Regions from separate parts of the Homo sapiens genome. Here regions 1 and 3 are each linked to region 2. Evidence: fine-mapped expression QTL. A gene starts in region 2. Each other region holds a variant in brackets. All regions are shown on one strand. Distances are from middle to middle. Region 1 has its middle 24 kb from the start of TREML1. Region 2 holds the start of NFYA (nuclear transcription factor Y subunit alpha). Region 3 overlaps NFYA (nuclear transcription factor Y subunit alpha).

The links. PIP is the estimated chance that this variant, and not a neighbour inherited with it, causes the effect. A credible set is the group of variants that fine-mapping cannot tell apart.
Region 1: its variant is the best candidate, but not a certain one, in a credible set for the expression of NFYA in thyroid (GTEx, PIP 0.56).
Region 3: its variant is the best candidate, but not a certain one, in a credible set for the expression of NFYA in whole blood (TOPMed, PIP 0.66).

What each region holds. Positions count from the first base shown.
Region 1 is chr6:41,128,552-41,132,764 of GRCh38, reverse strand. It overlaps the pseudogene ADCY10P1. Among named protein-coding and RNA genes, the nearest start is that of TREML1, 24 kb to the left of the region's middle. The variant CT/T (reference allele first, on the strand shown) is at 1,993.
Region 2 is chr6:41,071,333-41,075,545 of GRCh38, reverse strand. NFYA (nuclear transcription factor Y subunit alpha) reads right to left here and starts at 2,572. Exons shown (of 10, transcript NM_002505.5): 1 at 2,462-2,572. It overlaps OARD1 (O-acyl-ADP-ribose deacylase 1), which reads left to right and starts at 3,190. Exons shown (of 6, transcript NM_001329686.2): 1 at 3,190-3,310; 2 at 3,871-3,950. The coding sequence starts at 3,912. RefSeq lists silencers at 1,682-1,841, 1,872-2,501 and enhancers at 2,882-2,931, 2,962-3,171.
Region 3 is chr6:41,097,546-41,101,758 of GRCh38, reverse strand. NFYA (nuclear transcription factor Y subunit alpha) reads right to left here. Exons shown (of 10, transcript NM_002505.5): 10 at 1-4,213. It also overlaps a transcript of OARD1 not described here and the pseudogene ADCY10P1. Among named protein-coding and RNA genes, the nearest start is that of NFYA, 27 kb to the right of the region's middle. The variant G/A (reference allele first, on the strand shown) is at 2,609.

The sequences.
Region 1 (4,213 bases), 57 kb before region 2:
GAAACAGATTTGGATTTCAAGCTAGAAACGGGAGCTGGACTGCTTGTGCAAGAGTCAGGGGCAGTGCTGGCACAGGTTGGTGCTATTCCATTACCACATTCCCACTGCATGTTTTTTCCTAAATCCTTTCTAGCTCTTCTCTCTCTCCTACTTTCTTCCACTTTTCACTCATGGTTATGATTGTAAGAGATCTCAATCACATTCTCAAAGTAAAAGGCTCAGCTGAAGGGCAGATTACAGAGCCTGCTCACCATATAATTATCTGACAGGTCCAAGCAGGCAGCCGCAGCCTCCAGCAGGTAATAAAATGCACAGGTGGTTTCTCCAACGACCAAGCAATGCTGGGTGAGGGGTAAGAGCACTAACTTCAGGATATCCTTACAGTGACAAGGCTTTGTGGTCAACAGGTCTTTCTCAGGGCTGGTCTGAGCCAGCTTCCTCTTCACTTGATCTAGGAACTCTTCCTCTGTTCTTTGTGGAAAGAAAATGAAAAACTGAGAGTGGCCACCTTTACTGGGGCATTACCGGGTCTCAAAGTCACTTTTTCCAGGAAGTCTTCCTGTATCATTCATTAATTATTTGCCTATCCTTCTCCTCCATTACTCCATAAAATTTTAAAAGTCAGGGACTACAGCTGTAACTGCAAAGCTCTATTAGGAATTTTTAAAAGCTGAAAGCCAATCTAAATACCTCAATCTAAATGGGGAAATACCACACTTGAATAGTTAAATAACAACTAAATATTAAATAAAACATAAAAATGATACAAAGCAATAATAATACATTTTTTCTGTTAGCATTTTTGAATTTTCTAATACCACATTTTAATATTATTTTATATATCATCATCTAATCCTACAACAACCCTGTCATTCAGGCAGGCAAAAATTACCTCTTTTAGGTCATTGAGGCTCAGAGAGATTACATATAGCTTCGTAGCTATTGAGAAGCCAAACCAAAACTAGAGCTTACCACTCTGACTACTGATCTAGTGTACTTTTCACAGGCACGCTGAGCTCAAAAGTCAGATCTCTCTGAGTTATAATGATCTAAAAAAGTGGAGACTGAGGAGGGCCTTGAAGGATGGTCAACATATTAATAGGTAGAGAGATGTGGAGGTCACTCAGCATTTAACAAGGGAGAATTGTGTGAGCAAAGACACACAGGTTAGTGTGGGAGTGGTTCATGTGGAATAGATTTTTGTTTGAAAACAATAAGAAATCAAGTTAGATAAGTGGGATGGAAAACTGTATATAGAGTGGCTGGTGAACTCCAGGTAGGGACATTGAACACTGATAAGCATTAGAGACCCAGGAGGTACATGGTTAGGAAATGTATATTCATTTTAATATCATCTGGGCTAAAATAATTAACAAGACAAATTTATAGCTGGAAATAAATATGCTACATATAAAATGCACTTAAAAGCTATTAAAATGCTGGGTGTGATGGCTCACGCCTATAATCCCAGCACTTTGGGAGGCTGAAGCTGGCGGATCACCTGAGGTCAGGAGTTTGAGGTCAGCCTGGCCAACACGGTGAAACCTCATGTATACGAAAAATACAAAAATTAGCCAGGCGTGGTGGCATATGCCTGTAATTCTAGCTACTTGGGAGGCTGAGGCAGGAGAATTGCTTGAACCTGGGAGGTGGAGGTTGTAGTGAGCCGAGATGGTGCCACTGCACTCCAGCCCGGGTGACAGAGGGAGACTCCATCTCAAAAAAAAAGGTATTTTAAAAAAGTTTTTCTCAACCATTATCCTTGATGAACATTGATGCAAAAATCCTCAATAAAATACTGGCAAACCGAATCCAGCAGCACATCAAAAAGCTTATCCACCATGATCAAGTGGGCTTCATCCCTGGGATGCAAGGCTGGTTCAATATACACAAATCAATAAATGTAATCCAGCATATAAACAGAACCAAAGACAAAAACCACATGATTATCTCAATAGATGCAGAAAAGGCCTTTGACAAAATTCAACAACC[CT/T]TCATGCTAAAAACTCTCAGTAAATTAGGTATTGATGGGACGTATCTCAAAATAATAAGAGCTATCTATGACAAACCCACAGCCAATATCATACTGAATGGGCAAAAACTGGAAGCATTCCCTTTGAAAACTGGCACAAGACAGGGATGCCCTCTCTCACCACTCCTATTCAACATAGTGTTGGAAGTTCTGGCCAGGGCAATTAGGCAGGAGAAGGAAATAAAGGGTATTCAATTAGGAAAAGAGGAAGTCAAATTGTCCCTGTTTGCAGATGACATGATTGTATATCTAGAAAACCCCATTGTCTCAGCCCAAAATCTCCTTAAGCTGATAAGCAACTTCAGCAAAGTCTCAGGATACAAAATCAATGTACAAAAATCACAAGCATTCTTATACACCAATAACAGACAAAGAGCCAAATCATGAGTGAACTCCCATTCACAATTGCTTCAAAGAGAATAAAATACCTAGGAATCCAACTTACAAGGGACGTGAAGGACCTCTTCAAGGAGAACTACAAACCACTACTCAATGAAATAAAAGAGGATACAAACAAATGGAAGAACATTCCATGCTCATGGGTAGGAAGAATCAATGTCGTGAAAATGGCCATACTGCCCAAGGTAATTTATAGATTCAATGCCATCCCCATCAAGCTACCAATGACCTTCTTCACAGAATTGGAAAAAACTACTTTAAAGTTCATATGGCACCAAAAAAGAGCCTGCATTGCCAAGTCAAACCTAAGCCAAAAGAACAAAGCTGGAGGCATCACGCTACCTGACTTCAAACTATACTACAAGGCTACAGTAACCAAAACAGCAAGGTACTGGTACCAAAACAGAGATACAGATCAATGGAACAGAACAGAGCCCTCAGAAATAACGCCGCATATCTACAACTATCTGATCTTTGACAAACCTGAGAAAAACAAGCAATGGGGAAAGGATTCCCTATTTAATAAATGGTGCTGGGAAAACTGGCTAGCCACATGTAGAAAGCTGAAACTGGATCCCTTCTTTATACCTTATACAAAAATTAATTCAAGATGGATTAAAGACTTAAATGTTAGACCTAAAACCATAAAAACCCTAGAAGAAAACCTAGGCATTACCATTCAGGACATAGGCATGGGCAAGCACTTCATATCTAAAACACCAAAAGCAATGGCAACAAAAGCCAAAACTGACAAATGGGATCTAATTAAACTAAAGAGCTTCTGCACAGCAAAAGAAACTACCATCAGAATGAACAGGCAACCTACAAAATGGGAGAAAATTTTCGCAACCTACTTATCTGACAAAGGGCTAATACCCAGAATCTACAATGAACTCAAACAAATTTACAAGAAAAAAAGCAAACAACCCCATCAAAAAGTGGGCGAAGGACATGAACAGACACTTCTCAAAAGAAGATATTTATGCAGCCAAAAAACACATGAAAAAATGCTTACCATCACTGGCCATCAGAGAAATGCAAATCAAAACCACAATGAGATACCATCTCACACCAGTTAGAATGGCAATCATTAAAAAGTCAGGAAACAACAGGTGCTGGAGAGGATGTGGAGAAATAGGAACATTTTACACTGTTGGTGGGACTGTAAACTAGTTCAACCATTGTGGAAGTCAGTGTGGCGATTCCTCAGGGATCTAGAACTAGAAATACCATTTGACCCAGCCATCCCATTACTGGGTATATACCCAAAGGACTATAAATCATGCTGCTATAAAGACACATGCACATGTATGTTTATTGTGGCACTATTCACAATAGCAAAGACTTGGAACTAACCCAAATGTCCAACAATGATAGACTGGATTAAGAAAATGTGGCACATATACACCATGGAATACTATGCAGCCATAAAAAATGATGAGTTCATGTCCTTTGTAGGGACATGGATGAAATTGGAAACCATCATTCTCAGTAAACTATCGCAAGAACAAAAAACCAAACACCGCATATTCTCACTCATAGGTGGGAATTGAACAATGAGATCACTTGGACACAGGAAGGGGAATATCACACTCTGGGGACTGTGGTGGGGTCGGGGGAGGGGGGAGGGATAGCATTGGGAGATATACCTAATGCTAGATGACACGTTAGTGGGTGCAGCGCACCAGCATGGCACATGTATACATATGTAACTAACCTGCACAATGTGCACATGTACACTAAAACTTAGAGTATAATAAAAAAAAAAATTAAAAAAAATAA
Region 2 (4,213 bases):
GGGCCACACTACTTTCTCTCAAAATGTCAGACAAAGAAATTCTTCTGCAGACTGGTGGAAGCTTGTAAGGTATTTAGCAAAAAAGTTACCAGATTATAATGCCTTTTAGAAAGATGCCAAGCAAAAGTATTTAGTGATTTTGAAGTGACCAGAACATACCTATTTTTAAATACTAAGGTTAAAACATCTATTTCAGGTCAGGACGCAGTGGCTCATGCCTGTAATCCCAACGTTTTGGGAGAACAAGAAGGGAGGATGGCTTGAGCCCAGGAGTTCCAGGTTAGTGAGCTACGATTGCGCCACTGTACTCCAGCCTGGATGACAGAGGAAAGCCCTGTATCCAAAAACAAACAAAAAAACGTTCCAAAGGCAAATATACATGTTTTTTAGACTACTTAAGCTCTATCATCTCATCTGCTAATGCGGATAACGTGACAATCAAATGAATTAAGAAAATCACTTAAGCAACAATGAAAAACTCACCCTAAAAAGTGAAAATAAAACCTGTCCCCGAAGTTTTAGTAATGAAAGAGCACTGGAATACGAGTTTTCTGAAACCTATTAGTTGTATAACATTAAATGTGAATTTAGAAATGGGCACCAGATACTTAAGACCTTTATGTGCCAGGGAATGCACTAGATGATTCACATGAGTAAAAATAATTTTCAGAGTCCTAGGACAAGTCTCCTCTTCATCCCCAAAGAACTCAGCCACTATCACGGGGCAGAACCCATAAACAAGTCAGAAACTCGTTTTTTCAATCTTAGGAAAAAATATAGCTCTAGATCCCTTCTACTTGAACCTCCATACAAAATAATAACTGTTTCCAAAATATTCCTTAGCAAGATATACAAGTATTTTACCAACTGGGCTTTCCCCCCTAAACTATCACAACTACTGCCCACTTCCCTATCCCATCTTCCTGCCTCCAACAGTGTAATTTGATTCCTCTGCACATGCTTTTCTTCTCTTCGAGCAAGCTCTTCCATCTTTCCTGTGGAAGAATTACCATCATTCTTCAAGGCCAGTCAAAAGTGCGGTGGTGATAAGCCTTTCACGGAGGCTAGCTCACGCATGGATACTTCACAGCAACTGAACTTGGCCCCTTTATAGCACTAACCGTTAGGTATTAACTACCTGTTCACCTGTCAATTTCCATCAGGTAGGCACAGTTCTTATTGACCTCTACGTACTCCCTCCCTAACACACGGATTATACCTGGCATATACTAACTGCTGGATAATTGGTTGCCAACAGCAACCTCTCACCCTAAGGAAAACCCCACAACACTGTTAGTTTCTAAACATCTGCTGAGAAAACGTTAACACAGGACTTGAAAGTGTATCAGAAAAACATAAACCAAGAGATGAGTGGACTGGGTCAAGCCTGACACAAAGTAACATAGAAAGGCGAAGGCAAAAACAAAGGGAAAAAAAACCCCCAAAACTGTACTATATTCCCAAGGGAGGGAGATTTCACAAAATGAGCAGTGGATAAGATTAGTAATATGAACAGCAAGTTGTGCAGCCTCCGGAAAGAATGCGCAAGGGTATCAATCTTCTAAGAGTGAGGTTCCAGGCACCGAATGGACTGGTCTTACAGCCCGGACAAGAAACGGAGACCGCTTGGTTGGGCTCCAAGACGGAGGTGTGCGGTCCTGCCACTGCGAACGGGGCGGGGAAGAGAGGAAATGACGAGCCAAAAGGGGTGGTAACGGCGCCGGGCCGGAGACCCGGGCGGAGCGGGCTGGGAGGAGGGGCGCGGCGGAGCAGGGGGAGTGGGCGAACTAACGGCCCCCTCTCCCCACCAGGGAGACAGCGGGGGCGGGCCCATAGGGCTCCGAGGCGTGGGCGGGCCAGCCCCGTTGCCAGCCGCACACGGGACCCCGCGGCCGCGGCGCGCACCCTCCCCAGGCCTCCCTCCCGACCTAGAGGGGCTGCAGATAAGACAGACCCGGCTCGCTGGGAGCGGGGAGCGGGGGGCGCGGGCCCCGGGGAGGCTTCCTGTCCCAAGGGCCGGAGAGTGGAGAGTGCAAGGGCAGGTTTAAGTTTGCGGCCAGAACGACCAGGAGGAAATCGCCGAGGCCCAGGGCGCGCATGTGTCCCCTAGTGTAGGGCCATTCGTGGCCCCAGGCCTGGGGCCTGAGAACCTGGGCCTGAGTCGGGGAACAGGGACGCATTCCCAACTGGCCCTGGCACCCTGCGAGGGTCGGAGCCCCGAGGTGCCTGCTCCCCGAGGCGCCATCCCCGCGCGGGGCGGCCCCTGCAGGCCTCGGCCGGGAGTGCCCCGAGGCGCTCGCAGGCCCCGGGCCGGGGCCGCTGGCCGCCCGGCTCGGCTAGGCTCAGCTCGACTCCCCGGGCTCGACGGGCGCCTGGGCCTCTCCTGAGTGGTCAGCGAGACCCGCCAATCGGGGCGCTGGGGCCGGCTCTGGGCCGCTGGATATTGGCTCCTCACACTCACCGTGCCTCGCTCCCCCGGTTCGCTGCCCGCGCTGATTGGCTCCAGTACCGGACTCCGAAACCCAATCAGAGGCTCCAGCCGCCGCTGCCGCCGCCACTGCCGCTGCCTAGCAAAATGGCGAACCCGAACAAAGGGGAATCGGGCCTCCCTCCAACCGCCTCCGCGCAGGCGCCTCTGAGGCCACGCCCACTAACTCCAGTTCAGGGATCGCCCCACCCCTTCGGAGGAGCAACGCGCAGGCGTTCCCTGAAGCCACGCCCACCTTCCCGCTTTGACACCACCCCCAGTGAAAGGAATACGCAGGCGCTTTCCAGACGCGCCAGACCCTTCAACTCAAAACGCTGCCTTGAGCTTAGTACTACGCAGGCGCTAACTAGCCCCTTTGCCAGCTGCCCACCCCTTTCCAAGTGGCCACTAGGACACACCCCTGCGGCTAATGCGCAAGCGCCACTTTTCCCGACTCGTGGGGCAGTTTCGTTACGCATGCGCGGGCGGCGGCGGGAAACCACGGAATTTACTGCCGGAAGTTCGGCGGCCTTCGCCAAAGAGTGTGGGCTCGGCTAGCAAGCTAGAGGGGCTCGTTTCCGCCCCGCTACCGGGCGGGGGCGGCCATCTTAGATGCGTGCAATTAAGGGCTTTGGCGGGATTGGCTCCGCGTTTGGGCTGGTCCGCTGCTCCCCACCTACCAGGGTCGGATCCGGAGCCCTTCCCCGCGGGGCGGGGACCTCCAAACAACCGACTCCTTTCCAGGTGAAGGGTGACTTGGGTACGTTGGGGCTTTGAGCGAGCCTCCCCGCACCCTCCCATAGGACCCCAGGACAGACTGCGTCCTCGCTGACCCGCCCTAGGGTAGGAGACAGAGAATGGGAGGCTTCAATAGACTCTTTCCTTCTCCCACGCACCCCCCAAAAAAGTGGGGGGTGAACGTTCCTTGAGAGGCCGCCTTCCTTTCCCCACGCCTGGGGCTCAGCACGCCAGTACCCTGTACACTCTGTGGTTGCGGCTTAACGGGACTGTGGCCAAGTCCCTTCTGTTTTCTTCTAAGCCAGACCCACTGGGGAAATACTTTTGCGTCGTGCAGAGAAAAGGAGACCGTCCTAAATCGGCCTTGCTCCGGAGTGGCCCTGGAGAAAGGAGGAGGCGTGTCTTAGGGATGGGCTTTGCTTCCGCTGACGGAGCGGGGCGCTCCAGGAAAGCACGAAATGAGAGCGGGTCGAGACAGCCTCCGAACCTAAGCGTTCTTCCTCTTTGCCCCAGAAGGGTTTTGTATTACGTCCCAGGGGCCGAACAAACTCACATTCATCGATAAACGTTGGGGAAAAAAGCCTATTAAGTGGTTGTACAGGGCAATCAGAATATTATATACTAAGGCTGCCTAAGCATTTTTACTTCCTTTTCCCTTCTCATAGCTGAAGAAACACTTAAATTCTGGAAATAGCGACTCAGTATCATGGCCAGCAGCCTTAATGAAGATCCAGAAGGAAGCAGAGTGCGTAACAACTATTGACTTATTGGTGAACTGAAATTCGTAATAATGGAGGTCAAAAGCATAAACACTTTTTAATTAAATTAATGATTGCATTATCTTTTTTTCTCTCTAGCTGATTTACTTTAAAAAGGCTCAAAATTCTAGGCAGGGATCATCCATTACTTTCCTTTTACACATGCTGTAATTGGTTTGGCTTTAAATCAGATTGGAGGAAGGGGTGCCGGGAGAGGTAGTCGTGGGGGACACAAAATACAGAAAAATAG
Region 3 (4,213 bases), 26 kb before region 2:
TTTCCCCTACTCTCTTAGGCTGCCTAGCTATGGGAAACAATAGGATCCCTCCTCATGTCTGGCTAGAGAACCACTCACACAGTGAGGACAGGCACCTGGTATTACCCATCTTCATATCCCTGACACAGAGTAAGTATTTGTTAAATGAACGACTCGCGGAGTGGCTGCTAGATAGCTACGGCCAGAACAACGGCGGGCATATACTTATGACGCCAAGAACGAATTAACTGAACGAATAAAATAATTGAAACAGAACGCTTAATAGAAAATGCTCGGGGTTGGGAAAAACGGGTTCAAAGCCCGGGGCGTGGTCCTGTAAAAATCCTTTCCTCTGAGTTTCAATTTCATCATCTTTGGGGTGAGCTCAAGGACTGAGCCGGTTCATCCCAAAAGATGTCCTCCCACGCTAAAACGAAGATACTCAAAGTTTCCTAAGGAAGCCGCAGCACGAAGTTAAACTGTGCCTTAGCTCGCGGGAGGCTAGGCCTGTAACCGTCGAGGCCTCCAGGGGCTTAGACCCAACGGCCGCCTCTCCCGCAGGCCAGGAGACTTAAGTGCAAGTGCCGGCCGTCGCCCTCACCCGTCACATGGACGCCTAGGAGGACGCCCTGGGCCGTGGCGAGCTCGGGTTCCCATCCCCGAGGCTTCCGAAAGACCAGTAGGTCGGGAAGCAGCGCCGCCAAGCGGGCCTCCACAGGCCACAGAGGCGGCGTCGCATGCCGCTCGCCGGTCACCATGGCTGCCCGCCTAGGTACCGGAAACAGGGCCCAGCCGCGTAGCAGCCAATCCGCCTAGCAGGCTCTATTGGAGGCCTGCCGCCGATCAATCCGCGCAGGCTTCCTTGGGACAACGCCAATCGGAAGCGACTTCAGTCGCCGCCCCACCACCTTCCCACATTCTTAGCGGGGCCTACTTCCCCGGGGAGAAGGGGCTGGAGGTGCGGCGGTCTGCGCTTTCAAAGGAGCAAAGCTGTCTTTTCTACTGGAAACGGGGGAGGCGAAGACGCTCCTACGATAAAGCCGTTGGTGTGAGATAAATATCGAGAGGTCTTTCCCTCATACCACAGAGTAGAATCTTGGGTCATCTCTGAATTTGGTAAGGACAGGTTCCACTGGCATAAATCTAAGCCAAACTCAAGCACAGTTTGACTAAAGCTATCAAATACTGTCAGTGCTTTTCCTTCATTGTGGAGAGTTTCTCCTCTCTCATCTGCCAGGGCAGGTCTACTGCTCTCATCATTGAGTGCTTCCTCGGGCTGTTTGTCTCTTGTGTGTTGATAATGGCATATCGGAGGCTTCTAGTCTTTGTTGCTTAGATTCCCAGCGACCGTAAGGTAAAACAGTAACAAGGTGAGCATGCTGTGGATTTTTAACAATCAGAAAAGTACTTTTGTTTTGGTCTTCTGCCAAAACAAAATCTAACAAAACGTAAATAGTACATCTTCACTACCTGAAATTCTACAATACTTAAGGCTGTTTTTGTGATAACGGCTAATTTTCCTCATGGAATTACTTCATCACATTTTGATAAACACTTTCAGTAGTAGCATCAAATGTATGATCAGCCTGCAGGTGACAGAAAAAATCTCCTCAACAGGGTGGAAGGGCCAAAAGGGAAGAAATTAAGGGGAGATAAAGCTAAGAGGCTCAGACATTACAAGTTTGATACTGTTTACAGAGACACCGTCCATGCAGACAAGTCTTGTCGGGGGAGATCAAAATTTCAACACTGGAAACACAAACTAGAACCCAGGAGTTGCAGATTCCTCAAAAGTCACATTACTTTTCGGTTATTTTTATAAATTTATTTTAAAAAATAACAATTGCAATGACATTAATGATCGATCACCTGTACGCCCCCATACTGCTGGGGGAAAAACCTTCGATATAGTTGAATCCCAAAGAAAAATCAAGACATTATTATCAGGCACCCTATAGCCACAAAATGCTCTGTTGGTCCAGTGGCATCGACACTGACATGTTCAATGTACCAGTGCAGTTAAAATATATACACTTAAAATTATCCTGCAAAAAAAAAAAAAAGCACTCAAGTTGCATAACTAGGCATTAAACCAATTATTCATTCATCCATTCACTCTTTCTCCATCTGTAAAGTTATCACTACAGTCACAAATAAAAATGAATAAAAGAACTAGTATCAAAGAAAAAATCCAAATGTCAATACCCTGCCCCCACTTTGTGGGCTACTATGGTGTGCCAAAGTGACCACAAGAAAAGGGTCATGAGCTATTTGAAATGCAATGACAAAATGACAACTGAAGCATTTCAAACAAAATTCAAAGTCATCTCCCCCCAAATAAAAAATTCAGCAACAAGGCTGGCATTACTATGTACAAACTTACAGACACAAATAAATAGCATCTTCTAACTGTTGGCAGCTTAAGCACTCAAAGTTAGGTCTGAGTAATTTCTTTCTGAACTCTGCATCTTAGACTCCTAAATTAACCAAGGAATATAAATTCCTCATTGTTAGTAATCTATTCTCTGAAAAACTTGGGACTTACTGAATAACATTAATATCCCAAACTCTTGTAGAGCTAGAAGTTTCTAGTGAGCTTACCAAAGGATCAGTCCTTTGACATCTGGAA[G/A]CCAGGAGCGATTACCAGATCCCTGGGACTAGGAATATTTCACTTCCTGTTTCCTTTGCATAGCTCTGTACCTCTATTTCTATCATTACAATCATCTCTCTTTGTGGTGTTTTTAGAGGGCTTAATTTCTGTCTTAATACAGTTAAGCTGAAGTCAAAGAAGAACCAATTTTTATTCTTGGTATTTAACCCCCAATGTTCCTCGGAATTATTGGGTTTTCCTTGTTTCCAGAGAAGGCAGCCAACTCTTCTGAAATATCATCTTAGTTCTCTCAGGGTTCAACATCTAAAAGAGAAATAGATTTCTGAGGCACAACCCGTTCTGGGAACAGTGGCCCAGTTCCTGACCCTGCAGGCATGTTTCTTTCAGTCTGCAGTTTATTCTCACAGTATGGATGCAATGAGAAAACCTTTCTGCACAAGGCCTATGGAGAAAACATGAAAACTGGCACCAAAGAATCAGCTGCCATGGGAAGAATGAAAATGCTCGCTTTCTAGGGCCAGCATTGTGCTGCAGGAGTGAAGCCAACATCCACCTCAAGCTTTAGTGGGTAACTTGGACTCTGTCCAGGACAGTGTGACTGACCAGTGCTTTCCAGAAATTGTCAAGGATCAAATCTCAGGCTTCTTCCTTTCAGTGCTTGTTAAAGGTTCTAGAGTAAATGTGAATTACTCTCTTCATCTTAATGATCCATTCCAGGTATCCATCCACTGGAGAATCGTGCTCTATGATAACATACGGGTATACATGCTCTCTCTCTCTCTTCCTCTCCCCCACTCTCTCCCACTAGGCTGAAACACATGAATCTTTTAGTTCCCCAAATGCTGTCACAAAGTCTATGATTGAAAATCTCTAGTTTGGCCCTTCCTTTAGGAGTATTACAAATCTCCTCAGTGCTTCAGCAAAGAAGTTGTTGAATAGTCTTGTTCTCTACTTAGGAAAGGCAGTTTCAAGGTTTAATAACCCTCTACATTGTCTTAGAAGTAGCCACAGCAAGTACGATGGTCCAGATGACCAGTCAACAGAGGGACAAGCAGGCCACAACTTTTCAAAGCTAGAAAAAGAGATTCGGCAATGTATATTTTTAGTGCTTGAGTCTTTTATCATTCTATCCCCAGAATTAGCTTTTTCTTGGCTAGAGTCCAGAAATATCAACCTACCATCTGGGCAGAGAGGAATTCTTATTATTACCACAGATTGGAAGAATGTATCTCAGGAATTTATTGTTTCCGTATCACAAGATAGAACTTCCTTGCCTGGAAGCCATCTCTGAATACAAAGCGTCCATTCAGTTAGTCAGTGTGAGATTCCCCCACCAGAGGGATAAATGCTGTCTAGATTCCATGGGAAGGAGTGGGCTGCTGCTTTCCTGATTGCAGTTTTGGTTGAGAAGGTTGTTCTTCCCTGCTGAGATGGCTGGCTGACTTCACCAGTCAAGGTAAGTGCTTTGTGTACTGCTGGGGTGGCATGTGTCTCCTTGCATCATCCGAATCCATGAAATGTCAATGTCATCAACAGTCTGAAATAGGTCCTGACTGAAAGAGTAAGACAAAGGCTTGCAACTTCAATTTGCCAGGCATCGCTGCAATTGTAATACTGAGCCAC